Linked DNA regions of Homo sapiens: all the other regions are linked to region 2. The links come from fine-mapping of genetic effects on gene expression. A gene starts in region 2. Each other region holds a variant in brackets. All regions are shown on one strand. Distances are from middle to middle. Region 1 overlaps SELENOT (selenoprotein T). Region 2 holds the start of SERP1 (stress associated endoplasmic reticulum protein 1). Region 3 overlaps LOC124900547 (a long non-coding RNA gene).

What was found. PIP is the estimated chance that this variant, and not a neighbour inherited with it, causes the effect.
Region 1: its variant is the best candidate, but not a certain one, in a credible set for the expression of SERP1 in fetal neocortex (Walker 2019, PIP 0.59).
Region 3: its variant is the best candidate, but not a certain one, in a credible set for the expression of SERP1 in whole blood (INTERVAL, PIP 0.59).

Annotation. Positions count from the first base shown.
Region 1 is chr3:150,603,812-150,613,077 of GRCh38, forward strand. The region is part of intron 1 of SELENOT (selenoprotein T); the gene reads left to right. It also overlaps the pseudogene SAP30P1. Among named protein-coding and RNA genes, the nearest start is that of SELENOT, 5.1 kb to the left of the region's middle. RefSeq lists an enhancer at 1-394. The variant C/T (reference allele first, on the strand shown) is at 6,398.
Region 2 is chr3:150,540,220-150,551,880 of GRCh38, forward strand. SERP1 (stress associated endoplasmic reticulum protein 1) reads right to left here and starts at 6,277. Exons shown (of 3, transcript NM_014445.4): 1 at 5,833-6,277; 2 at 5,484-5,559; 3 at 1,779-4,279. The coding sequence starts at 5,916. The coding sequence ends at 4,239. EIF2A (eukaryotic translation initiation factor 2A) reads left to right here and starts at 6,568. Exons shown (of 14, transcript NM_032025.5): 1 at 6,568-6,611. The coding sequence starts at 6,584. RefSeq lists enhancers at 5,788-6,418, 5,864-7,063, 6,336-6,875.
Region 3 is chr3:150,585,306-150,596,966 of GRCh38, forward strand. The region is part of intron 1 of LOC124900547 (a long non-coding RNA gene); the gene reads right to left. It overlaps EIF2A (eukaryotic translation initiation factor 2A), which reads left to right. Exons shown (of 14, transcript NM_032025.5): 14 at 1-711. Among named protein-coding and RNA genes, the nearest start is that of SELENOT, 12 kb to the right of the region's middle. The variant A/G (reference allele first, on the strand shown) is at 5,083.

The DNA of each region.
Region 1 (9,266 bases), 62 kb after region 2:
CGTCACGCCATAGCCACCCCGGCTGCCTGCGGAGATGGGGATGAGTAGGCGCCGCGTCGGCGGAGGAGCGCCAACCGTTTGTCAGTTCACTTTTTCTGCCCTCTTTTCCGGGGTAATGCCGGGCGGCTTCGCTGCCTGGCTAGATGAAGGTTAATTCGGGTCATTGGAGAGGATCCGGGAGTGACAGACGCCGTTTTTCTCCTGAACTTGCTGGGGGGACTGTTGAGTTTGCGAATGGGGCGTCTGACAGCTGGAGGGGGTGGAAGGAAGGTCTGGGGATGCTGGTTCTGTTTGCCATTTCCAAAGTGTCAGAAAAGGAGCACGTTGTTCTTCTAAACATTGACAGTTCGCTCGCATTCCCTCCTCACCTGCCTCCCAGGAGTTGCCTGCTCTGGCATCTCTTTCTACCTTTCAGTTGTCTTGTGTATCCAGCAGATCTCGGCAGTTTTCGACAGTGTTCTTTAAATGATTTTGTTTTTAACCTAATCGTTAGAAGCAGGGCAATGATGCATTTTATACGGTAAGTGGGGTTGCGGGTGGGGATTGAAAGGCTCTGAAGATGGGGGAAAAAACACCAAAATTGTAAAATTATAGAAATGAGAATCTTACACCTCCAAAGATGACATTTTCTCAGGATAAACCGACCATCCCAGAATAGCCAGATTAGTAAATCATCAGAGTCCGGATACATTGGAATGTTGGTGTTGGACATCATTCATTTAAAACCTTCTTTTAAGAACTTCATGTATTAGTATATTAAAGTTTTGATTTTCTACTTCTCCAACTAGCTTTTTACTTACTCACTGAAGACCAAGCAAACCTTTAAAATAATTTTTAAAAATCGGCTTAAGGTGATGTTTGAGTTAGAAAATAAGATGGTGAGACTTTATTTTTTTGAGTGAAAACTAAAACATTGCAATTTCTCCTGATTAAAAACAAACAAGGCCGGGCTCGCTGGCTCACGCCTGTAATCCCAGCACTTTGGAGGCCGAGGCTAGCGGATCACCTGAGGTCGGGAGTTCGAGACCAGCCTGACCAACATGGAGAAACCCCCATCTCTACTAAAAATACAAAAATTAGCCTGGCGTGGTGGCGCATGCCTGTAATCCCAACTACTTGGGAGGCTGAGGCAGGAGAATCGCTTGAACCCGGGAAGCGGAGGTTGCGGTGAGCCGAGAACGCGCCATTGCACTCCAGCCTGGGCAACAAGAGCGAAACTCCGTCTCAAAAAAAAAAAAAAAAACCTCCCTGTACAATGTACTATGTTTCTGGAATATATCATCTTTCATGTAATACTGCAAATGGGAGAATGGTTTATCCATTAACTTTTTTCCTTAATTTTTAAATTAGAAGGTGGTAATCATCTTACTAACCTAAAGATTGTTAAGGGTTGTGATACTTACGGATTTAAGTGTTAAAAAATTGCAGTTTTCAAATTATTTAATTTTTCTGTATCCTACTTTTATCTCTTGGTTGTATTTTTGCTTTTCCAAAATACCCCTTTTACGTTTGCTTTTTTTGGAACACTTGTCACAATAATTTACCAGGTGTATCTTCCACCAAGGCTATTCATAGCAAGGTTTTCAAAATGTGTAAACAAACGTAGGGAAGGGCATTCAGTCCTTCAAATTAAACTTAAAAAAAAAGTAGTAAGTACTTCAGTTAAACTTTTGATACTTTGTTTTTCTTTGTTTTTAAGTACAGACCTGTCCCAAAAGTCTAATAATTTTCTTTTACAGTCACTCTGAGCATGTTATATAACAAAAATGCTTCCATTTAAAAAATTATTTTTATTTTTATTTTTCTGACACTATCCACCGGAGATCATTTTTTGTTTAATCTGTAGATGGGAAATAACGTTATTAATAAGACCCACCAAATACAGATCAACTTAGCTTGTTGTTTGTTGCTTTTCCCCCCAGAGATTAATCTGTTTATGGTAAAGTGAATATTGGGTTTCTGGTTTTGCTAGAATCTTGTGGACATTAATTTGCAAGTTTGTTTGAGAAAGGACAGGAAGCTAATACGTTTGAGGATAAACATGAGAATTTTAAAATTCCATTTGAAGTCAGTATTATAAAATGCAGCTTTTCATTAATTACCACTGCTAACAATCAAAAGAGAACTATTTTACCTTCATTTCCACTGACTTTTTCCCCTTATAGTGATCATGAGTATTTTATCAAAAATAACTATACCTCAATATATCACCTGGTAATTGTACCACTTTTGCAATTGTTAGTCAACACAATAGCAACATAGTGCTGAGAGATCAAGCTTGTAGAGTAGCTTACGACAGAGTTTCCTATTCTCGTTTTTTTTTTTCCTTTCTTTCTTCCTTTTTTTTTTTTTTTGCTGAGACAGAGTCCCGCTGTGTCACCCAGTTTGGAGTGCAATGGCATGATCACGGAGCCTTGACTTCCTGAGTTCCGATAATCCTCCCACCACAGCCTCCCAAGTAGCTGGGACTGCAGACGCGCACCACCACGCCTGGCTAATTTTCATATTTTTTGTAGAGACCTGGTCTTGCCTTGTTGCCCAGGCTGTGTGTAATACCTGCTGTATGCCAGGAATTAAGCATGCTAAAGATGTGACCATCTCAAGAAGTCTACCAGACTGGCACAGTATTACTTGTGTATCTGAGTCTGTGGTTTATTATGTTGATTGAGCAATATAATTAGATACTTTTGATTATATTGGCTTCATACTTGGAAAAAAATTTATTCTGCTTATTTGGACGTTTAACACTTAACATAGAAAAAGGAAGTTCTCTAATCAGAGCTTAAAATTCCATTGTTTTTGAGACAGTGTTGCTTTGTTGCCCAAGCTAGAGTGCAGTGGTGTGATCTCAGCTCACTGCAACCTCTGCCTCCTGGGCTCAAGAGATTCTCATGCCTCAGCCTCCTGAGTAGCTGGGACTGCAGGTGTGCACCACCACGCCTGGCTAATTTTTGTATTTTTAGTAGAGACGGGGTTTCACCATGTTGGCCAGGCTGATTTTGAACTCCTGACCTCAAAGTGACCTACCCACCTTGGCGTCCCAAAGTGCTAGGATTACAGGTTTGAGCCACTGCCCCCGGCTGAAATTCCCTTTTTGTGTTTTCCTTTTATTGATTTTTATAAATTTGTATTGATAGTTACTCTTAGGCATGATGTTTGTCATACATACTTTCTCCGTATATGCGATTTAACATGTAATCAGATCTACAGCATTTAATTAGTTGCAGTTTAAAGAGATTATTGGCTACAACCCTTTACAGTTAATATTTACTTGAACATTTGACAACTGAATTGCTGAGAATAGTAGATTAAATGAAATTGAGATTTCAAAACATAAGTAGAATATGGCGGGATTTTCAAAGTTTTGTTAGTTTGAGAATCTACTGCTGTAATTTTAGGACAGCCAACTTCTAAATGTAGTTTTAAGAGGTAAATGAAACAACTGTACCAAAACAGATTTTTATTTAAATTTACAACTATTCAGCCTTGGCTTTCATAGTGTGACAGCAAGAAAATAAAGACCTAAGGTTGATTTGGATGTTGATACTCATCAAGATTAGTAGTAAAATGCTGAATTGGAGAAATTGTGAGTTACAGAGATCATGTTGGTTACTGTAGACTTGATATTTGCATATTCAACAGATATTGGAGCACTTACTCTGTGCAGGCACTTTGCTTCCTGCGGAGAATTCAATTCAGTGCTCTCGTGGACTTCACAGGCAAGAGCAGATGCAGACATTAATCCATGGACTGACCACACAGATAAAATTCAATTGGTGTTAAGTGCTGTGAAGAAAGATTATGTGGTGGTATGAGAGATGCCTAGTCGGGATCAGGGAAGGTTTCCATGAGGAAATGAACTTTGAACTGAGATTCGAAGGATAAGATTTATTTGGCGAGAACTTTCCAGGCAATGGGAATAACATGTTCAGTGTACTTATAGTAGGAAAGACCACAGTTTTACCAGAGAAGCCTAAGCCTACTGACCTCAGAGACCTAAAAGAAGGTGCCGTTAAGAGCTTGAGGGTCTGGCAGGCCATGCTTAACAAAGACCGTTTGGTTTTCTTGTGGAAAAGACATTCCAGGAGACAAAGAATTGATGGGAAACCATTTAGGGCGGCTTTTGGAGTTGTCCAGGCAAGAGATAATGGAACTTGGAAAAGTAAGGAGGTGGTAGAAATAGAAAGAGATGTATTTGAGAGATCTTTATGTGGTAAATTTAACAGCTCTTAATGATGAATTGTATGTTTGTGGGGAAAGAGAGGTGGCATGAAGTGAGAGATGTCAAAGATGATTCCTGAGTTCTGTGGTGATGCTATACCATTCACTGGAATGATAATTAAAATAAACAAGTATTATGAATGTTTTTGGTGGGAGGGAAGGAATCCTGATTTTTGAAGACTAAGGACATAGTAGCCAGGGGAAAACCCCCACAAAGAAATTTTTATCTCCAAAATAGCCATGATAACTGAAACTAAGAAACTTAAATTAACAGTTACTTTATTACATCAAACCTAAAATACATAATGGATTGTAAGATGTACCATGATTTTATATGCCATTTAGAAGAAAAAAATACTGCCATTTAAACGGACACACTAATGATTATAAGATAAATCCTGTGGCTTTTTTTGTTTGTTATTGTTTTTTTAATTTATAGAGATGCTACATGTAGCCACGTTTAGTGGCTTACACCTGTAAATTCCAGCTACTCAGGAGGCTGAGGTGGGAGGATTGCTTGCGGCCAGGAGTTCAAGACCAGCCTGGGCAACATAGCGAGACTTTGTCTCTAATTTTAAAAAAAGGAAAAGTAGAGATGCTAAATATGGAAAAGTATGCTTATTGGTATCAATGAAATAAAGGAGTAGTAAGAAGTTGGTGTAGATAGCAGGTTAGTAGTAGTAGAGTGTTACCATTAAAAAAATAGCTGCAGCATGTAATTGAACTCCTTGCACATAATAGTTGTTTCCACTTAATAATGAATTAAGTACTTAGTTCAAAGCTTTTAGATATAGGTAAACATGACTGAATGATCTTAAAGGTTTTATAACCTTTTACAAAAAATTGAAACATAATTTCCTAACAGTTTGCCATTAAGGCAAGTGCTGGACAATTGAGTTGAATATATTATTTAGAAATACCAAGATAACCCCTAAATTTTGATTAGTACAGTTTCTTTCTCTCGCCTGATTGTTCTGCCTAGGACTTCTAGTATTATGTTGAATAGGAGTGGTGAGAGTAGACATCCTTGTTTTGTTCCAGTTCTTAGGGGGAATGCTTTCAACTTTTGCCCATTCAGTATGATATTGGTTATGGGTTTGTCAGAGATGGCTCTTACTATTTTGAGGTATGTTCCTTTGTTTAAGTTGTTGAGGGTAAAACTTAAGTTTTGAATACACTGCGCCATCAGTAACTTTTCGGCCTGGCCTCCGTGCCTCTACAGGTGGGACTATAAACTTCCAGAATTCTCTGTGCTACTGCTAGTCCTTTTCCTGCTGCCCTGAAACTGACACACCCTTGCTACTTATTCTGTTGATGTTTTCTTTTTCTTTTTTTGAGACTGGGTCTCACTCTGTCACCCAGGCTGGAGTGCAGTGGTGCAGTCATTGCTCATTGTAGCCTCGACTGCCGAGGCTCAAGTCATTCTCCCACCTCAGCCTCCCAAGTAGCTGAGATTACAGGCGCGCACTACATGCCTGGCCAATTTTTGTATTTTTTTGTAGAGAGGAGGTTTCACCATGTTGGCAAAGCTGGTCTTGAACTCCTGGGCTCAAGCAGTCCTGCCTCAGCCTTCCAAAGTGTCGAGATTACAGGCAGGAGCCCCCTTGCCCAGCCTTGGTGTTTTCTTTCTTTTTAACACATCCTCTGTCAGGATATAGAAAGTTGGGAATGGGAGCATGGATAGTATCTTACTTCACTGAAGTTGACCAGCTATTTGGTTCTCCCTTTGGGATGAGCCTTAGATCTGTGAGCTTTCAGATAGGAATTTTCCTGAAGCAGAGTTTAGGTAATTTTTCTTAATCTTGACCTTTCTGTCTACCTTATAATTAATATAATTTTCTCCTAGATTTTGTCATTAGGTTGTTGGTTAAAGTGTCAGTGTTTGGTATGATTTATTTTTGTGAATTTTTGTGATTTCAGAATTTGAGTAAGAATTTGATAGGGGCTATGTACCAAAATTACATTACATTAGAGAATTTCATTAGTTTAATGTTTTAAAAGGTAATTTTGGCTGGTAGAAAAAAATGAGGAACAGAGTGAATGATATCAAAGATTCCTAGTAGTTATGTGAATGAAAATGAAACCCAACTGTTTTACTTATGATTGGTCTCTATTGTCACATTACAGTGCTTACTTTTGAAGGTAGCTTAACTAATTTTGTTATAGTTTGGCATTA[C/T]GAAACCTAGCATTTGTACCACAAGCAAGACAGTCTTTTCATTAGGTATAAAGGTACCCTTTTCTTTTCATTTTGACAAAGGTGTTCATTTGATAAGTAGTTGTGTCATTAAGCAGAACTACTTATGGTTGATTTGATTTGGTTATCTCAGCACTTCAAATTCAGGATGGCACTGTGTTTGGTTTTTCTTCAAGTTTGCATCTTAGTAACCAAAAACAGTCTTAACATTTCAATCAGTCTATTAGACTGGGTTCATGTTTCATTATTTTCAATTTTGCTGGTAGAGAGAAGGAAAGGATAGAATATACATAATTGATGACCTAAGAGAAGTGTGATAGAAAGATACACCAGTGAAATTATTGTTCTTTCTCTCCTTGCTCTTTAATTTGTGTTTGTAATTTGTGCACTGCTTTCTGGGCTTGCTTCTGCATTACCTTATAATTGTTCCCCAGGGTTTGCTGTGTATTTGTCTCTCTGAAATTAGATTGTGAACTCTTTCAGGAAAAGAGACTAAAAAATGTTTTACTAACATTTAAAGTATCCAAATGCTGTTAACATTTTTCTAATAATGGTGATAACCTACCTACATACATGTGTCACTTTTACATGCCTTATCTCTTGAGTACTCTGAGAACTACCTGTGTATTGCAGGTGTCATCCTACTCATTGTACAGGTGTGGATACTGTGACAAAAGCAGGTTAATGGACTTGACCATTGTCTTGTTGGTCAGTGAGAGAGCTGATTTCCTGACTCTGTATTTAATGGTCTTGCCACAGTACTATTGCATCATGAGTCGTGTGTGTGTGTGTGTGTGTGTGTGTGTGTGTATTTGTTTTTGTTTTCTTTTTTAATAGTAATAACCTTTATTTAAAATAGTTTTTAATTTAGGAAAGCTCATTTTACATGAGTTTCCAACTAATTATTAGAGTCAGAAACAAAGAAAATAAAATCAGAAAATCTTTTGCAGAAAAAATACACAAAGAACATTTCTACATGTGAAAAAGCGGTAAACAGTGTTAACATCCAAGTTTTTAGTCTCAATTCCACATCTAGTGAACACCACTATCAACCTTGAGATCTGATTTGTTCTTGTCATTCTTCACTGATTAGATGAAATATGTTAAGGTGTCTTTTTCACTCACTGGAATAGACCTAAAGTGGCAACCAACTATCTCAACAAGTTGTGCTTTATTAAGTCCTGGTCTGGTTGGTGGCTTTAAGTGTCTTTTGTATCTCCTAAGTGTATTTACTTGTAATTGGTATAAATCAACCTCTGGGGTATCGAAATCTTGAACAGGTGAATCACCTCCATCATCATCACTCCCTTTTCTCTTTCTTCTGTTTCGAATACTCTGAATTAAGTTTTTATGATAATCACATATGTAAAGATGCCTGCGCTCTTATCCAGCTCGATCTTCACCTTCTGGGATATGCTCTTCTGGATCCTCTTGCTGAAGCTGGCGTTGCCTGCTGCCCGACCGCACCGCTCACCATCCTCCGCAGGCAGCACAGTTGCCAGGAGCCCGGCCTGGCCGCCCCCAGGGGCCCAGCCGCTGAGACCGCCCCTGCGCCCGGCCCCTCAGCCCCGATTTCCCGGACGAGGCACTGGCGACCACAGCGGCCACTGCGGCTGCCGCCTCCCCACTGCCCAGGCGTGAAGCCGTTCATGTCTCCGAGCTCCGGGGTACCGGCGCTGACAGAAATCCCCACTCTCCTGGCCGCTCCGTCGGCGGCAGTTCACTCTGCACACCAAGTTAGCTGCATGGCAGAACACCAACTGGGCCTGCTGCTGCTGGCGCCGAAACAGTGGACAGTGCCGAGGGCCGGGACTCAGAGTCGAGCGTCTCCTGGAATGGAGACCCAGCTCACTGTTACATGGGGTCTTCAGCTTTTTTTTTTTTTGAGACAGAATCTCGCTCTGTCGCCCAGGCTGGAGTGCGGTGGCGCAATCTTGGCTCACCGTAACCTCCGCCTCCCGGCTCAAGCTATTCTCCTGCCTCAGTCTCCTGAGTAGCTGGGATTACAGGCGCCCGCCACCGCACCCAGCTAATTTTTGTATTTTTAGTAGAGACAGGGTTTCGGCATGTTTATCAGGCTGGTCTCAAACTCCTGACCCTAAGTGATTGGCCCTCCTCGGCCTCCCAAAGTGCTGGGATTACAGGTGTGAGCCACCATGCCCGGCTATATATATATATTTTTAATGTTGGTCATTCTTTCTAATGTTAAGACATATCCTTTGAGGATAATTAGATTTTGGTGTCATGTAATTTGGGTGGTATCACATAATTTCGTTCATATTCTGGATCTGCCACCTATTAGTTATATGACTAAAACAAGTTAACCTATCTGAGTCTATTTGCTCAATTATAAAGTGGGCATGATAGAACTTCACAGGATTGTCTTGAGGGTTTAATAAGAATATAGCTAGCTAGCTAGTTTGTTCAAGGACATAAGTATCTGATAAATCTTAATGTTTCCCCTGTTGGTGAGTCAGAACAGAAATAAGAGTTGAAACTGCTGGTAAGCCTATTTTATCCATCTTCTTATTTTGCCCATAGTTAAAAAGCCACTTTTGTTATATTCTGCACTAACTTCCAAAGTTCATTTTGTTTTAGCTTTTATTCTTTTAATTAGACATATTGTCTAAAACCAAAAAGTCATGTTTCTGAAGCAGAGTTTTTAAAAGATACTTTATATTTCTCATTAAGATTGTGACTAGACAGAATCCTTCCCCACACACAAACTCCAGCTTATCTATTTTTCAATATCTAAGTTAGAGTTCTTGGCACTATTCACATTTTTACTGTACCTTCTTGAAGATGAAAGAGTCCGAAAGATTTAAAGATTTTTGAGCAGAATTAGACATAA
Region 2 (11,661 bases):
TTCTCCATAACACACTGTTAGAAAATAAAAATTTGTTGTTAGTCCATGTAATGATACTGTAATGTTTTAATAATTTAAATACACAGATGTATTCTATCTGCACTGCAAAGTAGAAATCTGCACACTGGAAAATCTTCATTAAACCCTTTGTTATAAAAAGTATCTCTGGGGAGCACATTGCTTCATTTTTCGGACTACTGGACTGCCTATTAAAAATTTTTATTTTGGCCAGGCATGGTGCCTCTTGCCTGTCATCTCAGCACGTTGGGAGGCTGAGACAGGAGGATCACTTGAGCCTAGGAGTTTAAGAGTAGCCTGGGCAACATAGCAAGACCCCACCTCTATTTTTTAAAAAATTAAAAACAAAATAAAATTATTTATTTTACACTTTTCAACAACACAGATTAAAAATTTTTTAATTTTTTTTTTTTTGAGATGGAGTTTCTACTCTTGTTGCCCAGGCTGGAGAGCAATGCTGCAATCCTGGCACACTGCAACCTCCGCCTCCCAGGTTCAAGATATTCTCCTGCCTCAGCCTCCCAAGTAGCTGGGATCACAGGCATGCGCCAGCACACCCGGCTAATATTGTATTTTTAGTAGAGACTGGGTTTCACCATGTTGGCCAAGCTGGTCTCGAACTCCTGATTTGAGGTGATCCACCCGCCTCGGCCTCCCAAAGTGCTGGGATTACAAGTGTGAGGCACCGCGCCTGGCCCAGATGAAAAATTATTAAAAACTCTAGCAAAATAATTTTTAAAAATGTAACCTTAAATGTATCACAGTGGTAACATTACTAGCCCTTGCATTTTTGTGCTGTACAGGGAGCACCACTAGTAAATTTGTCACTAGTTTTTTTTAAATGCACCCATAAAAGGACAGATTCCTTTTTCCTTCGAATTGGCAATTAAAAAAAAATTAAAGAATTTCTGTAAAAGCAGAAGCAAAGAGCTCGTGAAAACAGAAGTGTTCTAAGTGTAAGTTTTGCAATCATTCCTATTACCATAAAGTACAAGAAACTTTGGTTCGTTTCTGCTCTCCCCCAATTAGCTCTGTGATTGAAAAAAACAAAAAACAACAAAAAAAATTTATCTGGCTTTACTTGTCCTTTGACATACTTATTACAATTGTAGTTATGCTTTCATTTTGTCTGTTCCTTCTCTACTGGTCTGAGATATTTCAGTGTCAGGACTATGTATTCACAGTTCCATACCTGGCATATAAGTTGTTCACTGACTAAAATGCATGTTTTTGTTAATCTGCGAATTGAAGCAGTTGGATTAAATTTTCCATGTCCCTTCTTTGTTTCTGTGATATATATTTACTTTGAATTACCTAAGCCTAGGCAGTTAATTTTTCCCTTAATTTCTAGCCTTTTATTGCTCATTAATCCTCTTTCTAAATAAGGACATGTGTCCTAATTCAATTTGAAAATAAAGTAGTACAAGTAGCTACTGTGGTACTAAGTAAGTTTAGACAGGAAATGCTTCTCTGAGGGAGTGCCATAGAGTTTGCTGTTGAAGCCAATCAACTCCTACCTCTTGAAGTTACGGTTTGCATCTAAAAAATAAATTTAAAAACTACAAAGGCAAGTAAAGGCAAATCAAACTTAAGAACAATTTCTAAATGGAGAATCTGATGCTCTAAGTTTCACAAATGAAGCATAATAAAGTTTTGCTGGTGAACCTACTAAGCCCAGGAACATAATCCAGCTCTCCATGGTTGTCCTTTGTACCAACAGAACTCCAGTAACCTCAGTGAGAAGAGTCATGGCCCTGCAGTTGACTATCCACATTTCTTTAATGTAAGTCAAAGCCCATCACAATGCATCCTGTTACAATGGAAATCTTATTTTTGGAAGTCCACTTAATTATTTTGAGCAACATTATATACAACCCAACAGATACAATTAATTGACAACTTGTTGAAATGTTAGAGTTAAACCACAAAGAGTAACTGAGTAATGTTGACAACCCCAATATTTATTCTCATACTGTGCTCAACATTAGATGATCTATAAAATTCAACTGGCAAAGGGAGATCAAAGAATTGTGCTTCATCTTGAGCTTGAATTGGATGACAAGGAGATTAGGAAATCCTAAGTGGAAAAATATTCAAATCATTGTGCTTTCTATATATTTTTCTTACCACCTATTTCCAGTTATAAACCTTACATCTGTGCCTCTGCATACCATTTAAGTACAATACTAAACATTCTTTAAAATCATTTTCTACTAACTATAAAAGGTACACTCAGATAACTGTAAAATCATTTCCGTTTAGAAGAAAAGCATCAAATATTCAGGGAACTTTATTTTTAAAGAATAAATCAAGTAAGACACAGCTTTCGTTTACCTAAACATGCATAATCCAACCTGAATATAAACTGCACTTAATTGGTGAATTACACATGAAATACAAAGGGAATGCAATTTTACATATGTAAAATGATTGCTAGCTATAGCAATTTAACAGTCAAATTTATCAGAACATTGTACATTAAAAAACACAAACAACAACTTAAAGCCAAATATCTATAGTAAACCAAGGAAAATTCTGATATGGAATGGTTTGACTAAAAGCAAAGAATAAGGCACCTGCTATGAATTTAGCACAACCATAAAACAGAATTAGTTAACCAAGACACTTGTTTCAAAAAGGGAAACAAGTACAGAGACTGATTAACTGGGTGAGAAAGGCAAGTAACAATTTAGTTAAAAACCTGCTGGCCCAAGGTCAGTTGATTCATTCCTTATTCCAGAATAGTTAAGTTCCTGAAAGTCCTTAACCACTCTGCTCCCTTACTGTTCTCCATGTTTGAGGGTATCAGAAGCCCCCTGTGAGGTTCACGCTGTGTATAGACTAGGTAGCAGATTTCCCTTCTGTTCCTCTTAAAACAGCTTATTTTAAAAGAAATATCCTGAGGCAATTAACAAAGCAAACACAAGCAGCTTTCTTTCCAACGCATTAATACATAGACACTGCTCAGGTTTTTTTTCACCAAGTTATGGCTAAGTATACAAATAGCCAATACTTGCAGTTTTCAACAGTACTAGAAAACCCAAAACCTGCCCTATGACCCTCACCCTTACCATTAGTAAAACGTAAATTTGATCAATCATAACCTATAAAGTCATATAACAAAGGGAAGACTAAAGACTGATCATTATCAGTAAATCCATTCAATTCCAGATGCCACTTTAGGCTGATGTGTCTAGTACCCTAATGATTGAAAAATCATTAATCTAGAAAAAGCATTTGCAAACTAAGGATAACTTCGCAGTTGATGTGCCTTTTTTTGCTATTAAAAGTGCTATTTAACATGCTAAAATGTCTTATGGCACATTGGACTCAACAGCATGTTCTGATGAGGCATCCATTTTTAGCAGTATTTTTCCCTAGAATTTTGTTTGGCATAGTAAACCCCTTTGATATATTAAAATAGTTCTGGTGAAATAAATGTAACATAAACAAACCTTCCCTGACTGACTTCACTCCACCACGGTAGCTTTTAGTGAAACCACAGTAACTGATTAAGTCAGAAAACGATCAAGTTTTTTTTTTATGGCATCTTGGGTTACTATACTCACTCATGCAAAATCCAAGGTAGTGTAATGGAAACAATATTGGTAAAATAGATGTTGTGGCTATAAGCATCTCCCTTTATATTAGACATTTAGAAGCTTTTAAAACTTTTTAGATGCTAAAGGTTGTGGCAAAACTAGGCTGTGTAGTTGTTCCATTTATAAGCACCTTATTACAGGACAGTTACATGAACCTATAAGGGAGTGTGCTTTCAGTTCAAAAGAGTAATAAAGTGCCTAGCTATATAAAAACCACAAGACTTCAAATTGTAATTTAAGCTAACTGCAGTTATACATTTGGGTTAACAAAATCTAGACCCTGTCTATGCAGAGTTAGACTAATTGTTCATACTGTTTTAATAACCACATAAAAAAACTTACTCTTAATTGACTGAATAAGTAGGGTCCACTACTGTATCTTAACAATCAAATTTTATTGCTTTATTCATGTGGTGTTTTTTGCAAGGCACTGTGGTATGGACTAGAAAACTTGGAATGACTCATGAAGAAACCTTGGAATGACACATGAAGCATGATAGGAAAGTCATTCTGAGGCAGGATGCTTTACTGAATTGTTTTCAACCAGGGTATCAAACATCAGGAATGAGTTCAAGTTAAAATTCACAGGAGAATGGAAACATCTTAAGGTCAGTCACTTCACATGCCCATCCTGATACTTTGAATAATCTGGAAAATTGCTGTAAAAAGAAAGAGCAAATATTAAAATAAGCTTTGAATAAAATAGGTCTGGTGTCTAACAAATATTTATTAAGGTAGCTGAAGAATCCAAAGGTACTCTTACATTTGCAAATGGTACATAACTTCAGTATAATAAGAAGTGAAGACAGGCCTGTCTGAATAAATAAAACAATGAAATATCCCTGAGTTATTTTTTTATCTTAGCTTCGCTGAACTTTATGTCTAAGTATCCAAGAGAACTTGCAGATAAGTAATCATTTTACAAAGAACTTAAAGCACCAAAGCCAACAGGTTTTTCCAGCATAGAATTATTTTGGTTTATAAGCATCCTTTTAAGGCCTGGCCTGTAACACATGCATGTTTCCTCATTCTCACAAAGCTGAAATTCAATCATCTTCAGGTTATATAAACTGCTTGGCTCTCATCCATTTATCAGGAAAGCTTCCAATTGGTAAGTGAAGAAGAAAGGCAAAGTGAAACGTTAAACAGAAATCTCAGTAATTTTAGAATGTGGAAAACAAACATCTACTTCAATATTAACAGCTTGCATATTAAAATGATAAATGAAGAGAGGAAAGACCTTTTTTTTGTAATCTATTTGCAAAGGCAAGTGTCTGTTACTCTTAGGGGACAGCAGGCTACCCCGACACTTTTTTTTTAAACCATGTATCAAACGTTTCTTTTATTAACCTAAAAACATTTGACTCACACATTAAAATGCCAATCAGGTAATTTCCTCTATAGTGAATCAATTCTTTGCACAAGCTTTATTTTATAAAATATACTCAATTTTGACATTAAGACATTAGATTCTGGTATATGTTAAATCAAGTTCTAACATCTATAGTACATATTTATAATTTTCTTTGCAAAGACTGATAATGGAGTTACAAAACATTCTAAATTCTCATTTCGTTAGGTTTTGTCCGGTCTTAACATTTATTCCAACTGGATCATTACCAAGACCTGACCTCCTTTTTGATCTCCTGTGAGTACAAATTAAGCTGGGAGAAGTTTCTGGAGCACCACCCTCTGTGCATATGTGGAACAAGTAATTTGGTTCAGACGAAACAGAATTATGTGGAGTCCTCGGCAGGTGGGTTGAGAACTACGCAGGTAGGACTCACTACTGACCGGTCACCACGTCATCCCAAATCCTTTCAACCCAAGACTCTACCTGATGGGAGCCCCCAAGCCACTTACCAGAACCACAGACAACAAAAATGAAGAGAGCCAATAACCAGGGTCCTACAGACGCCTTCTCTTCGGGGGCATTTCTCTGCAAAAGCGAAAATCCACCATTTCAGATGCAGAGAAACCACTCGGACCCCAGGCTCCCACGCCTGCACGCCGGTCGCCGGCCCCCTCACCTCACAGGTCTCCCCTTCCGTTCCCGAGCCCCCACAGTCTGGCGGTTCGCAGACTCGGGCCCCTACCCCTCCACGGCACCAGCCCACGGTCGGCCGGATCCGGGAGAAAACGCGACGCGGCCCCAGGGACCCGGACTCAGCTCCGGCTGCGGAACGCAGAGGGGCGCCCGCTCTTTCCTTACCGAGGTCTTGGCGACGTTGCCGCGCTGGGTGATGTTCTTGCTGTGCTTCTCGTTGGCCATACGGATCCTTTGCTTGGCGACCATCTTCGCGGCGCCACCACCTGCCCCGGCCACCCCTCGGACTCGCTCACTCGCCTGCCTCCTCTGGAGCCGCTGCGAGGCTCGGCTCGTGGTGCCCGCGCCGCCGGAGCGCCGAGGTTCTCAGGCCAGACGCTAGCTACGGCCGCTGGGCCTGGGCGCCGCAAGCGCGAGGTCTGAGCACAAGCCGGGCGCCGGCCGCCGACTGACTGACCGAGCGGGGCAGGTGCGCAGGAGGAAGAGAACTGGCCGCCGGGTCGTTCTCGCGCCGCCGTCGCCGCCGCTTTGGCCGCCGCCGTGAGCGCGGAGTGAAAGAGGAAGGAAACGCAACGCAACAACGGGAATGTGCAGCCCGCCGCCTCGATCTACTTTGGGTTCGGCTGCCAACGTCAGCACTAGACGGACTCCGCCCCGCGGAAGTGCGCGCCCCTCCCGCTGGAGAAGGAGGGCGAAAGCAGGCGCACCCTCCCAAGCTCTGTCAAGCGTCGCCCTAGATTTGCGCGTGCGCGTTTGGGCGCCTTTTCCGCGTCACTCCGTAACCGGAAGTGAATTGGCCCCGAGGCTGATGGCTCCGGAAACACCAATTCGCTGTCTCCACGCATGAGGAGACGTGTAGGGGCCGGGTTCGGCCCTGGTGAACTCTCACCCGAGCGGTTTCTCTTTCCGGGACAACATGGCGCCGTCCACGCCGCTCTTGACAGGTGAGTTCTGAAGAAGCGAGGGACTCTCTTTCTTCAGACTAGTTTCTTATTTTTGTCTTTGCCTTTGAGAACTACCCGAGGAGCCGGGGAGTCTGATCTGCCTTTTCTTGTGGCTTGCGGAAAGGCCAGACTGTTGGCTTTCTTGATATAGCGTGGCAATCGGAAGTGAAGTCTCCGCCTCTGGGCTTTCGTATTCCCCCTCCCTTTCACCCATCCATCATTCTTGCCTGCGGATTCATCTTCTACAGAAATAGAAGAAGGGGGAGAAAAACAATGTGCTAGTTGAATTTGTGACACATGGGTCTGCAATACTGGTGTTACACGGGCCCTTGTGAAGTCATTTAGGTCTACAATAAGAACAAAGACAAACATGAGTTAGTCCTCTAGAATGATCACGCACTTTAAATACACCTGGACTTAAGTAATTCCAGATTCTGGCCTTCCTGCCTTAATGAGGTTTGTAGGACTGAATAGGGAGAGTGGAGCTGTAATGCAGGTTTCAAATGATGAAGGTGTGGTTGGGAGAGGGTGTAGCAGTGAGCATGATAGAGATATTCTAGCAACATTTGATTTTGAAATGGTTATGAGCATATTAGAAATAGAACATTAGAGGACTCTTGAAATTTTGAAGCTAAAGACTGTAGTGTTGGAGGAGATAATAAACTTAGATTGGAAAATGCTGGGGAAGTTGCTTTACTAGGGTGTGGCTAAGAGTCTGCATATGAGTATTACGTAAGGAAAAGAGAGTCGGGAAGGAAAAGAAGGTTTTGGTTAAGTTCTGATAACTATATAGAAGGAAAAAGTCATTAAGAGAAAGGTTGTCTGCATTTAAGGAGGGAGGCTATTCCCTCCCTTCCCCCCCGCGAAAGGAACCTTAAAACATTTTTGCACTTTTTGCCAGTCTACATTTCTATTTTTACATTTTAAAATCTTTGTTATTAAGCGCCATGCCCACTGATGCTCAGTCTGTCTTCTGCAGTTTAGTCATCATTTATCAAACGCCGAGTATAATCTTCTAGATAATATACCAGGCAAAGACTGTTTAAAAGGCAAAGTTACATAATAAATTTTTTTTTAGGTTTGTAAAGGTAGCTTGTTATTCACAATTTTTAATACTAAATGCTTATTTGAACTCTAATGAAAAAATTACATTCTAAAATCTGATAAATAACCCCTCCTTTAAAAATGCCTACAGTAGGTAGTTCCTCTCTGCTTACAGGGTAGATTCCATCCTATGTAGCATAGTTATGTAACCATTTATAATCTTTGAATTGCTCTTGAGACTCATTTATTTCCTTGCCATCCCATCTTATTTGGTGCTCCATCAATACTGAACTGCTTCTGAGTCCCTTTGAACAACCTGTTTCTTCAGTCTAGTACTATCCTATGCCTCTTGTTGATTTGGCAAACTCTTTTTCATCTGTTGAAATTAAAATTCATTTTAGATATCATTGCTCTGTGAAGCCTTTCGTCACTCTACCCAGATAGAGTCAGTCACTTCCTGGGCTATTTTTGTACCTGAAATATATTTGAAATTTTATTTCACTTACTAAGTAGGATAATTAGACATTCACTTGCCTTTCTCCCCTGCTAGACTGTGAGTCCTTCAATGTCAGCGACAGGGTCTTATTCATATCTGTCTTCTCAGTACTAGTGCAGTGCCTGGTAGACAATAGATACTCTAAATCAGGGGTCCCCAACCCCCTGGGCCGGACTGGTACTGGGCAAGCATTACCACTTGAGCTTCCCCTCCTGTCAGATCAGTGGGGGCATTAGAGCCTCATAAGAGCGCAAACCCTATTTTGAACTGTGCATACAAGAGATCTAGATTAGATTTGTCTGTTTAGACTATCCTTTTAAATTAATGAAGGATAGCCACTTTATAGTAAATTAACCAAGGATGACAATTGTCTTACAGTGCTTAAAATCAGGGACTTTGTAAGAGCTTAAATGTTGTCTGTTCAGTCTACTCTTCATATTCTCATATTCTTAGAGGCCCAGAGAGATTAAGTGGTCCGATTCACACTGCAAATTGGCAGGATTAGGATTATACTTATTCAGATTGTTCAACTCTGTGGTCCATTTTTCTTTCACTAGAACAAACTGTTTAATCTTTTAAACATTCTCAGTGTACATATTTCATTCAACAATAGATTATTTTACTTCCAAAATCTTTTGTTAAATTTAGACTCGTGGGATTTTAGAGCTGTGAATAATTTGCAGATTAGCCAGTAAATTTTGTTAACCCCAACTCTTAATTGGGAGTGACAAGCCAAAGCAGGTGAAAAAGGGATTTTTTTTTTTAAACTCGTATAACCTAAAAGCCTCAGTACTGCTAGATCCAGATACTCACATGGCTTCAGAAATCTGTTTTTCTTTCTTTCTTTCTTTCTTTTTTTTTTTTTTTGAGATAGTTTCGCTCTTGTTGCCCAGGCTGGAGTGCAATGGCGCGATCTTGGCTCGCTGCAACCTCCACCTCCCAAGTGCAAGCAATTCTTCTGCCTCAGCCTCCTGAGTAGCTGGGATTACAGGCGTGCACCACCACGCCCAGCTAATTTTGTATTTTTAGTAGAGTTGGGGTTTCACCAAGTTGGTCAGGTTGGTCTTGAACGCCTGTCCTCGGGTGAGCCACACGCCTCTGCCTCCCAAAGTGCTGGGATTACAGGTGTGAGCCACCATGCCTGGCCAGAAATCTGTTTTTCTTCATCTGTAGGTTCTTGCTTTCCTCCAGATTAAATTCATCTTTAAACTGACATTCAACCAAATGCCCAGCTCCAAAGGAAAGAACACATTTTTGCCAGTAGTCTCAGCAAAAATCTCAAGGCTAGCTGCCTTTGACTTTGCTTGGCTCACCTTTGTATCAGTCAACTTTTAATCATGTAGTCAGGACTAAATTATCTTCCCACTCCTCGATACTCCTCAAAAGAAAATGAGCGCCTCCTAAAGAAGAGGAGCTGGTTGCTAGGCACATAAAACAGCAATGTCCATTACGTGAAATTCACATTGTCTAATCTGCTTGACCAGTTGAAGTCACAGAGATAATTTATTCAAAATTGAGTGATTTTCCTAAACTAATACATAGTTCAGTGAATGTAAGAGTTGGGAAAAGTATCGTATTTTAAAGATGACTACACCCCTGCCATGGGATCCTTGTTTATTGAAGCCCTGTGTTTTTCTCTCTCTAACTCAGGCCTAGAGCAATAAATAGTATATGAATGTCTAAAAAGGCTAGTAAGCTTGGAAAAGATTATGTAGATGTTTAATGTATTTCACACAGCTACTGTGTGAAACTGGCGTTTATTTGTTGTCTTAAAAGAACTGCTTGCATTCTAGATTTTTCTTTCTGCTAGAACATATTGCCAATCCCATTTGATTGAAGAGGGAAATCACTAAAAACAGGGAATCACACAAACTCAGAATACACTATATTAAGCTAACTACGCATTGTATTTAGTTTCACAGATACTTGTAACTAAAAAGGATTCCTTGTTAGAAAGTTACATGTAGAAAAAAATTGTTTCAGTATTGAGAAGTTTTTTAGTCCCTATTTATTTTTGCTTTTATTAGTTTAAAACAGTTTATGTTCTGTTATGGACCTGATTTTGTGTTTTTTTCTAATAAACTTTGTATCACAGCTTATCAGGAGTAAATTAAACTGTATATGCTTTTATTAAATTTATTTAATAGAAAAACTAATTAAATCTAGCAAGGCATCTTAGAAGTACAAAATGTCAGTTTGGGCCAGGTGGCTTACAGCTGTAATCCCAGCACTTTGGAAGGCTGAGGGAAGCAGATTGGATTGCTTGAGCTGAGGAGTTTAAGACCAGCCTAGGCAATGTAGTGAAACCTCGTCTCTACAAGAAATATAAAACTTAACATGGCTTGGTGGTGGGTGACATGATCATGGTTCACTGTGGCCTTGACTTCCCAAGTCCAGGTGATCCTCCTGCCTCAGCCGTGCGAATAGCTGGGACTACAGGCATGTGCCACCGTGCCCAGCTAATTTTTGTAGAGACAGCATCTCCCTATGTTGCCCAGGCTGGTCTTGAATTCCTGGGCTCAAGCCATCTGCCTGCCTCGGCCTCCCAAAGTACTGGGATTACAGGTGTGAGCCACCACGCCTAGCCTGAGCCCTATTTTGTTTTCCAGCTTCATCATCCTCTAGCCACACAGGCCTTCTTTCCATCCCCTTGACGCTCTGTCGTTTTTCTTTCCATGGGGTTTTTGCACTTGTTAACTGTTCTCCTTGCTTGTTAACTGCCATTGATCCTTTACATCTCAGTATACAAAACACTTAAGGATGCTTTCCCTAACCTTCCATTTTTAGGTTAAAACTCTCTTTTATACCCTCAGTGGTACCATATACCTTTCCTTTGAAGGACTAAACACAGGTATATGATTCCGTATATTTGGCCAATTATTTGATTACTGTTTGCAAAGTTCAATGAGGTCAGAGACAAGGCTGATTTTCTTTCCTATTATTTCGCCAATGTTCAACACAGGGCCTAGGAGGTAGTTTGTTCGTTTTTTTCCCACTAAGCATTTGTTGACTAAATGAATCTATTTATTTGGTTCAGCTTTAGAAGCATTTAATTCAACCATTTAAAAAAGTATAGTCTAGGCTAGGTGCGGTGGCTCACACCTGTAATCTCAGCACTTTGTGAGGCTGAGGAGGGAGGATTGCCTTAGCCCAGGAGTTAGAGATCAGCCTGGGCAACAGTGAGACTCTGTCTCTACAAAAAAAAAAAATAGCCAAGCAGGGTGGCACATGCCTGTAGTCCCAGCTACTTGGGAAACTGAGCCAGGAGCATCACTTAAGTCCAGGAGTTTGAAGTTGCAGTGAGCCTTGATCATGCCACTGTACTCCAGCCTGGGTGACAGCAAGACCCTGTCTCAAAAAAATAAATAAATTTAAACATAGAAATAAGAAGTATAGTCTAGTTCTGTAGATGATTATTTAATCTTGAACTTTGTTTCCACTTAATTTTTTAGGCTATTACTGTCATTGGGGCCTTAATAAATGAATATGTCTCATTCCACTTGTTCTCTT
Region 3 (11,661 bases), 45 kb after region 2:
GGTCAGGAGTTCAAGACCAGCCTGATCAACATGGTGAAACCCCATCTCTACTAAAAATACAAAAGTATCCAGGCGTGGTAGCACATACCTGTAATCCCAGCTACTTGGGAGGCTGAGGTAGGAAAATTGTTTGAACCCGGCAGACAGAGGTTGCAGTGAGCCGACATCGTGCCATTGCACTCCAAGCCTGGGCAACAAGAGTGAAACCGTCTCACACACACACAAAAAAAAATATTTTGGAGCTCCTTCTATATGAGTCTCTCTCTCTTATCTCTCTCAGGATGTGTGTATGTGTTTGTTTCTCTGGAAAACCCTGACTAATACAGATTAGCTATGTATTAGGTAATACATAATGCCTAATACATAACTAATATATGGACAGGAAGTTAATAGACTGACTGTGCCACCTTAAAACTCGTATGTTGAAGCCCTAACCTCCAACGTGGTGGTATTGGGAGATGGGCCTTTTGGAAGGTAAGTGTGTTTGAATGAGGTGAAGAGGTTGGGGACTTCGTGATGGGATTATTGTCCTTACAAGAAAAGACACCAGAGAGCTTGTTCTGTCTCTTTGGGCCATGTGAAGACATGGTGAGAAAGCAGCCAGCTGTAAGCCAGAGAGTCCTCACCAGAACCTAACCATGCTGGTGATATCCTCATCTCAGACTTCTAACCTCCAGAACTGTGAGAAAATAAACTTCTTTGTTTAAACCACCTAGTCTGGTATTTTGTTACGGCAGCCTGAGCAGACCAATATAGATTGTATAAATTTCAGTTTGTTTAAAAGGACAGGCCGGGTGTGGTGGCTCACGCCTATAATCCCAGCACTTTGGGAGGCAGAGGCGGGCGGATCACAAGGTCAGGAGATCGAGACCATCCTGGCTAACACAGTGAAACCCCGTCTCTACTAAAAATACAAAAAATTAGCCGGGCGTGGTGGCGGGTGCCTGTAGTCCCAGCTACTCGGGAGGCTGAGGCAGGAGAATGGCCTGAACCCGGGAGGCGGAGCTTGCAGTGAGCCGAGATCGTGCCACTGCACTCCAGCCTGGGCAACAGAGCGAGACTCCGTCTCAAGAAAAAAAAAAAAAAAAAAAAAAAGTAAAGGACAACTAATGAATCAAGGAAGACTTTATGGGAAAAAGTAAGATTTAACATGCTCTAAATAGAAAAATGGTTTGCTTTTTTTTTTTAAGGTTTAACGTGTTTATCATGGTTGGCAGCTAAGTAGAGGAAGAGCCAAGTCCAGAATCTAACATTTGGACTTCCCCTCATTTAAACAGTGGCGTTTTGCCACGTTGCCCAGACTGGTCTCAAACTCCTCAGCTCAAACAATCTGCCCACCTCGTCCTCCCAAGATGCTGGGATTACAGTCATGAGCCACTGCAGCCAGCCTACATTTTTAAATGGTTGGAAAATCAAAAGATTATTTGATGACATGTGAAAATGGTATAAAACTGTGAAATCTATTGTCCATAAGTAAAGTTTTCTTTGAACACATCCATGCTCACTCGTTAACTTATTTTCCATGGCTGCTTTCATGCTGCAACTGCAGAGTTGAGTATTTCCAACAGGTCATGTTTTTGCAATGCCTAAAACATATACTCTCTGGCATTTTACAGAAAAATATTGCTAATTCCTTTGTATTCTGTAGAAGAATACAAAATAACATGGAAATAACCACATAATTATGTTGCTTCTTGTATTCTCCACTATATAAACTCCTAGAAGTGGAATTCTTGAGTCATGTCACATTAGAAAATTTAGGCCAGGCACTAATTTAGGCTCATGCCTGTAATCCCAGCACTTTATAAGACTGAGGCTGGAGGATCACTTGAGCCCAGAAGATTGAGGCTGCAGAGAGCCATGATCATGCCACTACACTCCAGCCTGGGTGACAGAGAAAGACCCTGCCTCCAAAACAACAACAAAATGTAAATACTTTTTGTTGTTACTATTATCATCATCATCTTTATTTTACTTGCTGATTTTCTCCTTCACTATGTTTGGGGTTTTTTTACTCAATTTATTTTCACATTTGGTACTGTTATTACTCTGAGACTGTTGTTTTTATTTAGTGGAAGCATAATCAAGTTAAGTGAATCAGATGTGACTCCGCAATTGGCATTTTAACATCTAAATTTGGGACAGAGTCTTGCTCTGTTACCCAGGCTGGAGTGCAGTGGCTCGATCTCAGCTCACTGCAACCTCTGCCTCCTGGGCTCAAGCAATTCTCGCGCCTCAGCCTCCGAGTAGCTGAGATTACGGGCATGCACCACCACGCCTGGCTAATTTTTGTATTTTTAGTAGTAGAGACGGGATTTCACCATGTTGGCCAGGCTGGTCTCCAACTTCTGGCCTCAAGTGATCCGCCTGCCTCGGCCTCCCAAGCTTTGGGATTACAGGCATGAGCCACTGCTCCTGGCCTTAAACTTTGTTTAAAAAAAGAAATAAAGCAATGGGCCAGATTGGTTTTGACACAGATTGAACAATTTAAACATTTATTGCTCAAAAGATTAATGAAGATCATGGGCCACTAATCTGCTTCAGACAAACTGTTAAACCAGTTTTTAAAAAACTAAATTGAACATTTTCTGAATTTATACCCCTTGCCAAGTAAAAAATAATACACATACATTCCAAAATAAATTTAATATCAGAAATTCTGTGATGTTTATGTTGCAATCCAAAAAGGTGAAAAGGTAAGATGTTGAGTTTTCCAAAAGTAAATTATAAGGTGAGCATTTTATCCTTGGCTTTTCAGCTCTCTATGGAAAGATACAATCCATTAATAGTCATAGACCTGCTGACTGTCTGTAACCCCTGCGTCAGATCAGTGGTAAGTCATAGGCCCAGCCATAACATTACACCTCTTCAGGGACAGCTTAGCCCTGTAGAGTCGATGAGGTTAAGTGGCAGGCGTGGACACGGCGGCAGTTGTGAAGAGCTGCTTACACCAAAGCCTTGCCCGGAATGCAGGGCTGATTGCCTGCTCACAGTTGGTCTTGTGACTGACAAGTGTCCTGTTAGTGTCGTTGTAGGATGACAGGGGCCTCACAATTTCCAAAAAAAATTATTCTGTAGGGGAGGAGCATTTTTCTACTCTTCAGGACTTTGAGGAGGTCTACATCATCTGAGGCTCAGTACTGTCTTTGGAAAGCAGTTTGCAGGACTGCAACCAGAGGAAATGCTTCAACCATTTGTTCTCTGCACCTGGGGGAAGAAAGTCTTTGCCCTGAAGTGTGATAGCCAGTGATCTAATCAGCTACAGTTATGTGCCACATAAAGACGTTTTTGTCACTGACAAACTGCAAATATGATAGTGGTCCCATAAGCTTATAATGGAGCCGAAAAATTCCTATCTCCCAGTGGCATGATAGCCTTGTAATGCCCTAGCACAACATATTACTCACTTGTTTGTAGTGATGCTGTTTGTAAACAAACCTGTGCTGCCAGTCCTATAAAAGTCTAGCACTTACAATTATGTACAGTACATAATACTGGATAATTATAAATGACTGTTCCTGGTTTATGTATTTACTATACTATACTTGTTATTTTAGAGTGTACCCCTACTTTAGAAAGTTAACTGTAAAACAGCCTCAGGCATGCCCTTCAGGAGGAGTTCCAGAAGGCACTGTTACTGTAGGATATGACAGCTCCATGTGTGTTATTGCCCCTGAACACCTTCCAGTGAGACAAGATGTGGAAGTGAAGACAGTGATATTGATGATCCTGATCAATAGCCCCTACATGGCTGGGGCTAATGTATGGGTTTGTGTCTTTAAAAGTTAAAAAAAAAAAAATTAGAGGAAAGCTTTTAGAGCAAGGATATAAAGAAAAAATATTTTCGTACAGCTGTATAATGTGTGTGAATGTGTTTTTTGGTTTTTGTTTTGAAACAGGGTCTCATTCTGTCACCCAGACTGGAGGGCAGTGGCACAATCTTGGCTCACTGCAACCTCTGCCTCCCAAGCTCAAGGGATCCTCCCAACTCAGGCTCCCAAGTACCTGGGACTACAGGCATGCACCACCGCACTCAGCTAATTTTTTTACTTTTTGTAGAGACGAGGTCTCACTATGTTGCTCAGGCTGGTCTTGAACTCCTGGGCTCAAGGGATCATCCCACCTCAGCCCCCCAAAATGTTGGGATTATAGGCTTGTTCTGGCCAACGTATGTTTTAAGCTAAGTGATATTGTGAGTCAAAAAGTTATATAAAATTAAAAGTTTATAAATTTAAAAAGTTACAGTAAGCTAAGGTTAATTGATTATTAAAACAAGAAAAATATTTTTAGCATAGCCTAAGTGTACAGTGTTTATAAAGTCCATAGTAGTGTACACTAATGCCCCTGGCCTTCATGTTCACTGACCACTCACTCACTGACTTGCCCAGAGCAACTTCCAGTCCCACAAACTCCATTCAAGTTAAGTACCCTATATGGGTGTACCATTTTTTATCTTTTATGCCATATTTTTACTGTACCTTTTCTACGTTTACATATGTTTAGATAGACAAATATTTACCACTGCTTACAGTATCAATACAGTAACATATTGTATTGCTTAGGAGCAATAGGCTATACCATCTAAGTTTATGTAAGTACACTGTATGTTCACACAGTGAGGAAATCGCCTAGTGACACATTTCTCAGAACCTATCCCTGTTAAGTGACACACGGCTGTTCTTGAGCTGCTGCTTCATAGGCCACTCCCTCCCTCTGTAATGCTCTGTTTTGTTCTTGGAATCTCTCGAGTACTTCACATCTCCAAACTTCATTTCACCGCGGGTATATTGTGGAAATTATAGGTAAACCAATTAGTATGAATCCATCTACTTTCTGTTTTCTAGAGTTTTTAATACAGTTTCTGAACCACTGGTCCTTCTTTCCTGGAGGTATTGCAGTTTCTGGACCACTGGTCCTTCTTTCTTTTCAGTGTTGCCACAAAATTATTGCTTGTACCACTTTCCTGTCATGTCACTCAGATCCTAAGAAGGGGGAGGCAGATGCATGTGCTTAGTCTGTTGTCTTAAATTGGAAGTCAGACAAGCACACTTCTAAAGGTTTTTTGTATTTGATAATATATGT[A/G]TACATTTTGAGACTGGGTCTTGCCTTGTTGCCTAGGCTGGAGTGCAGTGACATGATCACGGCTCACTGCTCAAGTGATCCCCCACCTCAGCCTCCCCAGTAGCTGGGACTACAGGCATGCACCACCATGCCCAGCTAATTTTTGTATTTTTTGTAGAGACAGGATTTCGCCATGTTGCCCAAGCTGGTGTCAAACTCCTGGGCTCAAGCAATCCACCGATCTCAGCCTCCTGAAGTGCTAGGAGTACAGGCATGAGTCACTACATCCAGCATATATATATACACACGTATATGTGTGTATATATATGTATATGTATATATATGTGTATATATATGTGTATGTATATGTGTGTGTGTATATATATATATATATATATATATATATATTAAAAACATGAATGTAAAAATTAAAAGCATTTTACTTGGTTCACCTAAACCAATTCCTCATACGGACACTAGAGGGTTCTAAGGATCTGGAGTATGGGGAAATTAATGAGGAATTCAAAATTTTAGAACATAACTGGAAAATATGTTCACTCACTTAAAACTTGCCATTTTAGTAGCCTGGATTACTGCTATTTATTTATTTATTTGGAGACAGGGTCTTACTCTGCTGTCTAGTCTGTCTTTTCTCATTGTCAAACTTAACCCTCTTTAGACTTTTGCCATCAGACTTATTCCCACCCTCCTGCTAAACTTGTTCTGTAATAGTGGTCTCTTATTGGTGCAAATGAATCATATTCCAACAGTTTGTTTAGAAGTCAACCATTTGCAGAGAGGACTATGTTTTCCCATTGAAAGAATATTATAAATTGTCATTGGTGTTGAGGTGAGCATTGGTGAAAACCTTAAATGCAAAAACTGGGTATAGGCTCATTAAAAAAAAAAAAAAGTTGAAAATCACTTAAATTTTCAAGAGAATGAGAAGCCACAGAAAATATTTGCAAAAGATGTATCTGATAAAGAGGTATTATCCAAAATATACAAAGAAATCTTAAAACTCCACAGTAAGCAAACAACTTTGTATATTAAAGTTGAAAATTCATTTAAAAATATATAAAAGTTGTTTAATATATAAAAGTTTGATTAAAAATGGGCCAAAGACCTTAACAGACATCTCATCAAAGATGATATACAGATGGAAAATAACCACATGAAAAGATGCTCCACATCATACATCATCAGAGAAATGCAAATTAAAACGATAGTCAAATACCTCTTTACACCTATTAGAATGACCAAAACCAAAAACACTGACAACATCAAATGCTAATGAGGATGGGGAGCAGCAGGAACTCTAATTTATTGCTGGTGGGAATGCAAAATGGTACAGCCACTTTGGAAGACAGTTTGGCAGTTTCTTACTAAACTAAGTATAGTTTATTACTATACTTTTAACATACAATACAGCATGTCACTCCTTGGTATTTACCTAACGGAGTGGAAAACTTAAGTCTACACAAAAACCTGCATACATCGATAGCAAACGTATTTATAATTGCCAAAACTTGGAAGCAACCAAGATGTCCTTCAATGAGTGAATAAACTGAGATACATCCAGACAATGGAATATATTTAGGACTAAAAAGAAATGCGCTAACAAGCCATGAAAAGACAGAAGAAACTTAAATACATATTACTAACTGAAAGAAGCCAATCTGAAAAGGCTTCATACTGTATGATTTCAACTACATAATATTCTCAAAAAGACAAAACTATGGAGACAATGAAAAGATCAGTAGCTGCCAGGTATTAGTGGGGAGGGTAAATATTTAGGACAGGGAAAATATTCTGTATGATGCTGTAATGATGGATACATGTCATTAAACATGTTTCCAAATCCACAGACTATACAACACCAAGAGTGAACCCTAATGTAACCTATGGACTTCGATTATGATGTGTCAAGGCCGGTTCATCCTTTATAACAAATGACACATTCTGGTGGGGGATATTGATAGTAAGGGAGGCTATGCATGCAGGGGGTATGTGTGAAATGTGTACTTTCTGCTCAGTTTTGCTGTGAACCTACAACTCCCAAAAAATTGTCTTTAAAAAATTATTTAATATTTAAAAATTAATGCCACAATAAGAAATAAGAAAATAGAATGAAAATTCTTGTTGAAAGTTTGAATACTTTTTTATTTTAGAAGAAACATTAAAATGAAGGAAAAAGTATGGGAAAATAATTTGTAGGAGATTCCCAAGGATGCTTTTTGTGCTTTAGATACTGATTCTTTAGGACAAACATATAAGCTTATCTTCTCTTTTCCCTGGTATAAATTTCACCATTCTCGAGCTTAACCATCATTGAGGTAATCCAGCATTTACAAACAAAATGACGGAAGGGAAAGAAAACATATTTTTCTAAGATCATTAAGCAAAAATTGGAAATGAGGAGAGAAAGAGAGAAAGGCATTATGGAGAAAGAGATATACATAAGAGGGACAAAGAAAGAGAGAAGGAAAGGGGGCAGTGAGGGAGAGATACTGCAATTAAGTGGGAGCCATCACCCAGGACACCACCTCAGTTTCTTGTCTGAGGATTTAATGGGAGAGCTGGGAATGAGTACTCTTGGAACTGAGAGGAACTGGTAACCAGGAATGGATAACCCAGGGATTTACCCCAGAAGTAGTTGCAAATCAGGCACTATACGATTGGGAATACATCCACAAACCTTCTAGGACTTAAATTCCTTTTTAAAGTAAAGTCAGCTGTATTTTTTTAGAGTCTCAGGCCTGGCAAAGCAGAGGTTTTTGCCTTTACACTATTGGGCAAAATTACTTCCAGGCACAGTTTTGTTTGACTATGTTCATTGAAGCTAAAGAGCAAATCCTAGAATTGTGATTTCACTGGAGAGAATCTTTGTGCCTACTCTGTTTTGTTTTTGCATCTTCTTCCCTCTTCCCAGCAGGGACATCTAGTCCCCATTTAGGGAAACTGAAGTCCCTAGCTTGTGGCGCTTCTCTCACTCCCCTAGTCATATCTGAGACAATACACTCATACTTTTTTTTTTGAAACAGGGTCTTAGTTTGTCATCTAGGCTAGAGTACAGTGACATGATCATGGCTCACTACAGCCTCAACCTCCTGAGTTCAAGCGATTCTCCCACCTCAGCGTCCTGAGTAGCTGGACTACAAGTACATGCCACCATGCCTGGCTAAATTAACAAAAAAAAAAAATTGTACACCAGGTGTGGTGGTTCATGCCTGTAATCCCAGCATTTTGTGAGGCCAGGGGAGGTGGATCACTTGAGGCCAGCAGTTGGAGACCAGCTTGGCCAACATGACGAAACTCTCTCTCTCCTACAAAACACAAAAAAAATAGCTAGGCATGGTGGTGCGGATCTGTAATCCCAGCTATTTGGGAGGCTGAGGCAGGAAAATCACTTCAACCTAGGAAGCAGAGGTTGCAGTGAGCTGAGATCGTGCCACTGCACTCCGCCCTGGGCAACGGGCAAGACTGTCTCAAAAAATAACTTTGTGTTGTTGTTGTTGTTGTCTGTAGACACAGGGTCTCATCATGTTGCCCAGGCTGCTCTTAAACTCCTTGGCTCAAGTGATCCTCCCTTCTCTGGCTCCCAAAGTGCTGGGATTACAGGTGTGAGCCACCATGCCTAGCTTATAGTTTATTGATTGAAATAATACATTTAGATCACAAAGTTCAAGCAGACATTTGGATTTTAAACACTGGCAGTGAAAAACTTTTTCATGGAATTTCAAATGGACAGTTTGGTAATACTAACAGTGGTAGAGAAGCGATCAGCCTTGGACATAGAAGTAGGACCGGCTTCATAATTTGCAGCGCCCAATGCAAAATGAAAATGTGAAGTTCTTTATTCAAAATTATTAAGAATTTCAAAGCTGTGACAACAGAGCATTAAACCAACTACAGGGTCCTGTGTGACTGCATAGGTCACATACCCATAAAGCCAACCCTGCATAGAAGCTACTGAAACTCCACCTCCCTCTGACCTATAAGAAGTTCTTTAGTTTGTTTCTGGACATCCCCCTGTTCCCTAGAAGAGGAAGAGGTAGTGGCCAATCACACCAAGACTGCTGGCTCTGGATTGGTAGCTGCTAAGAACTGAGGAGATTTTCGTTTTCTACTTCTCTATTTTTTCTTTGTAAATTTTTATTTATTATTTTTTAAAATTCGTGGGTTTTGTTGTTGTTGTTGTTGTTGTTTTTGAGACAGGGTCTTGCGCTGTCACCCAGGCTGGAGTGCAGTGGTGTGATCATGGCTCACTGCAGCTTCGAACTCCCTGACTCAAATGATCCTCCTGCCTCAACCTCCTCAGTAGCTAGGATTACAGGTGTGCACCACCATGACTGAATACTTTTTGTATTTTTTGTAGAGACAGGGTTTCATCATGTTGCCCAAGCTGGTCTTGAACTCCTAGACTCAAGTGATCCTCCCCTCCTCGGTATCCCAAAGCGCTGGGATTACAGGCATGAGCTACCGCTCCTGGCCTATTTGGTACTTTTTTTAAAGATGGGGTCTTGCTCTGTCACCCAGGCTTGAGTGCAGTGGTACAGTCATGGCTCACTGTGGCCTCAACCACCTGGGCTCAAGCAATCCTCCCACCTCAGCCTCCCGAGTAGCTGGGACCACAGGTGCGTGCCGCCATGCTCAGCTATCTTTTTTTCTTATTACCAAAATAACATATGTTTAACAGGAAATATAGCCAAGCAAAACATTTTGATCCATATCTTCCTATTTATGTACTTTAAAAAATACATAAATAATAATGTGATAACACTTTACTGTTTCGTAATCCAATTTTAACATTCTATGTTGAGCACTTTATTTTTCATTGAATTCTAAAACATATATTTACTTTTTGAATAAGTATTACAAGACAACAGCACACAACTTTAAAATACAAAAGTTACTTATGCAATAAGAATAACTTCTCTCCCATCTTTGTTCCCTAGTCACTCTGTTCCCTGTTCTCCTCTCAGGAATCAACCACTTTTTGGTTCCTTGTATATTATTCTTTTTTTCTGAAACAGAGTCTCACTCTATCATCCAGGCTGGAGTGCAGTGGTGCAATCTCAGCTCACTGCAACCTCTGCCTCCCAGGTTCAAGGGATTCTCCTGCCTCAGCCTCCCGAGTAGCTGGGACTACAGGTGCCTGCCACCACGCCCAGCTAATTTTTTGTATTTTCAGTAGAGACAGGGTTTCACCATATTGGCCAGGCTGGTATTCTGCATGTAACTTATACACATATAAAAATTTATAAGTCATTTTTAATGGTTGTTAAAATGCCACTAAATTAATATACCATGATTTATTTAATGCAGTGTTGGACACTGAAATTGTTTCTGATTTATAAATTTATAAAATAACATTGTGATGAATATTTTTGTAATTAAAATCTTGAGCTATACATTATTATTTCTCTAGGTTAGATTTAGAAGTGGAATTGCTGGGTCAAGGTTCATGTACATTTTAAGGCTTTGGGTTTATGTTGACAGATTGTAGTTCCAAAAAACTGGACTTACTTATTTTCCCAAGTTAGTATAATGGAGTGCCCATTTTCCTACAAAATCACAAAAACTGAGTATAGTTTTTTTTTCCTGTCCCACAATTATTACAACTTGATTTTGTTGTAATCAATATATTTTGTTTTCCTGATCAGCTTCTTCCAAGGCCCTAGGCTCACCAGGTCCTCCTCTATCCTGTACTCCCTGAACTCCTCCCATGCCTTCTGTTTCGGCGGTCCCATGACCCAAGTTCAGTGATTAGGTAGAAAGACTCACAAGATGGAATAGCAAGTAATATTCGTGGTAAGGCTTATTACAGCAAAGGTTACAGAGCAAAAGCAGTGGGAAAAAGATATGCATCAAGGGAGTTCAGAGAGGCCAGGCACAGGCTTCCTAAGCATTTCCCATTGGGTACTACATAGGAGTTCCCTCGCTCTCACTTTCTCTCTCTGGCAGTGAATTTGGGATATGTCTCTGCCCAGGGAAGCCCCTTTGAGTTTTAGGATCTGAGACTTTTATGGAGGGGCTGGTGACTTAAGCATATCCTACTATCCCTCCAGCACAGTAACCAAAACTTAAAACTCCAAAAATAAAACCAGGTATATACATCATTAGTCTTTTTTATTTTGATTTTTAGTAAGTCGAAAATAATATCATACATCATTAGTTTTTATGCTTGTGCAAAGCAACCTGATGATAGTTATGATTCTGTTTGTTCTTACATTTGAGCCCTGTGTTTTTTAGATAACTAGACTTCAAAAGTCCTTGTTTCAGAATTTTATCATAGGCCTCTTACTCTAGCCCTTTCCTCATACAGAGGTCTGGCCCTTGCTTTTTAAGCTTGCTGGCCTAAACAACTTGCTGGCTATGGTTCTTGCCTCTGTGTAATGGCCTCCCAGACATGGACAGTCTACTATCTGAACTTGCAAGTATTGCCTTGTCTATAATTCTCTTTAGGAGTTGGAGGTGGGAATGGCAACAGTTAGAAAACCTAAGCAAGGCTGGGCACAGTGGCTCATGCCTATAATTTCAGCACTTTGGGAGGCTGAGGTGGGTGGATCACTTGAGATCAGGAGTTCAAGACCACCC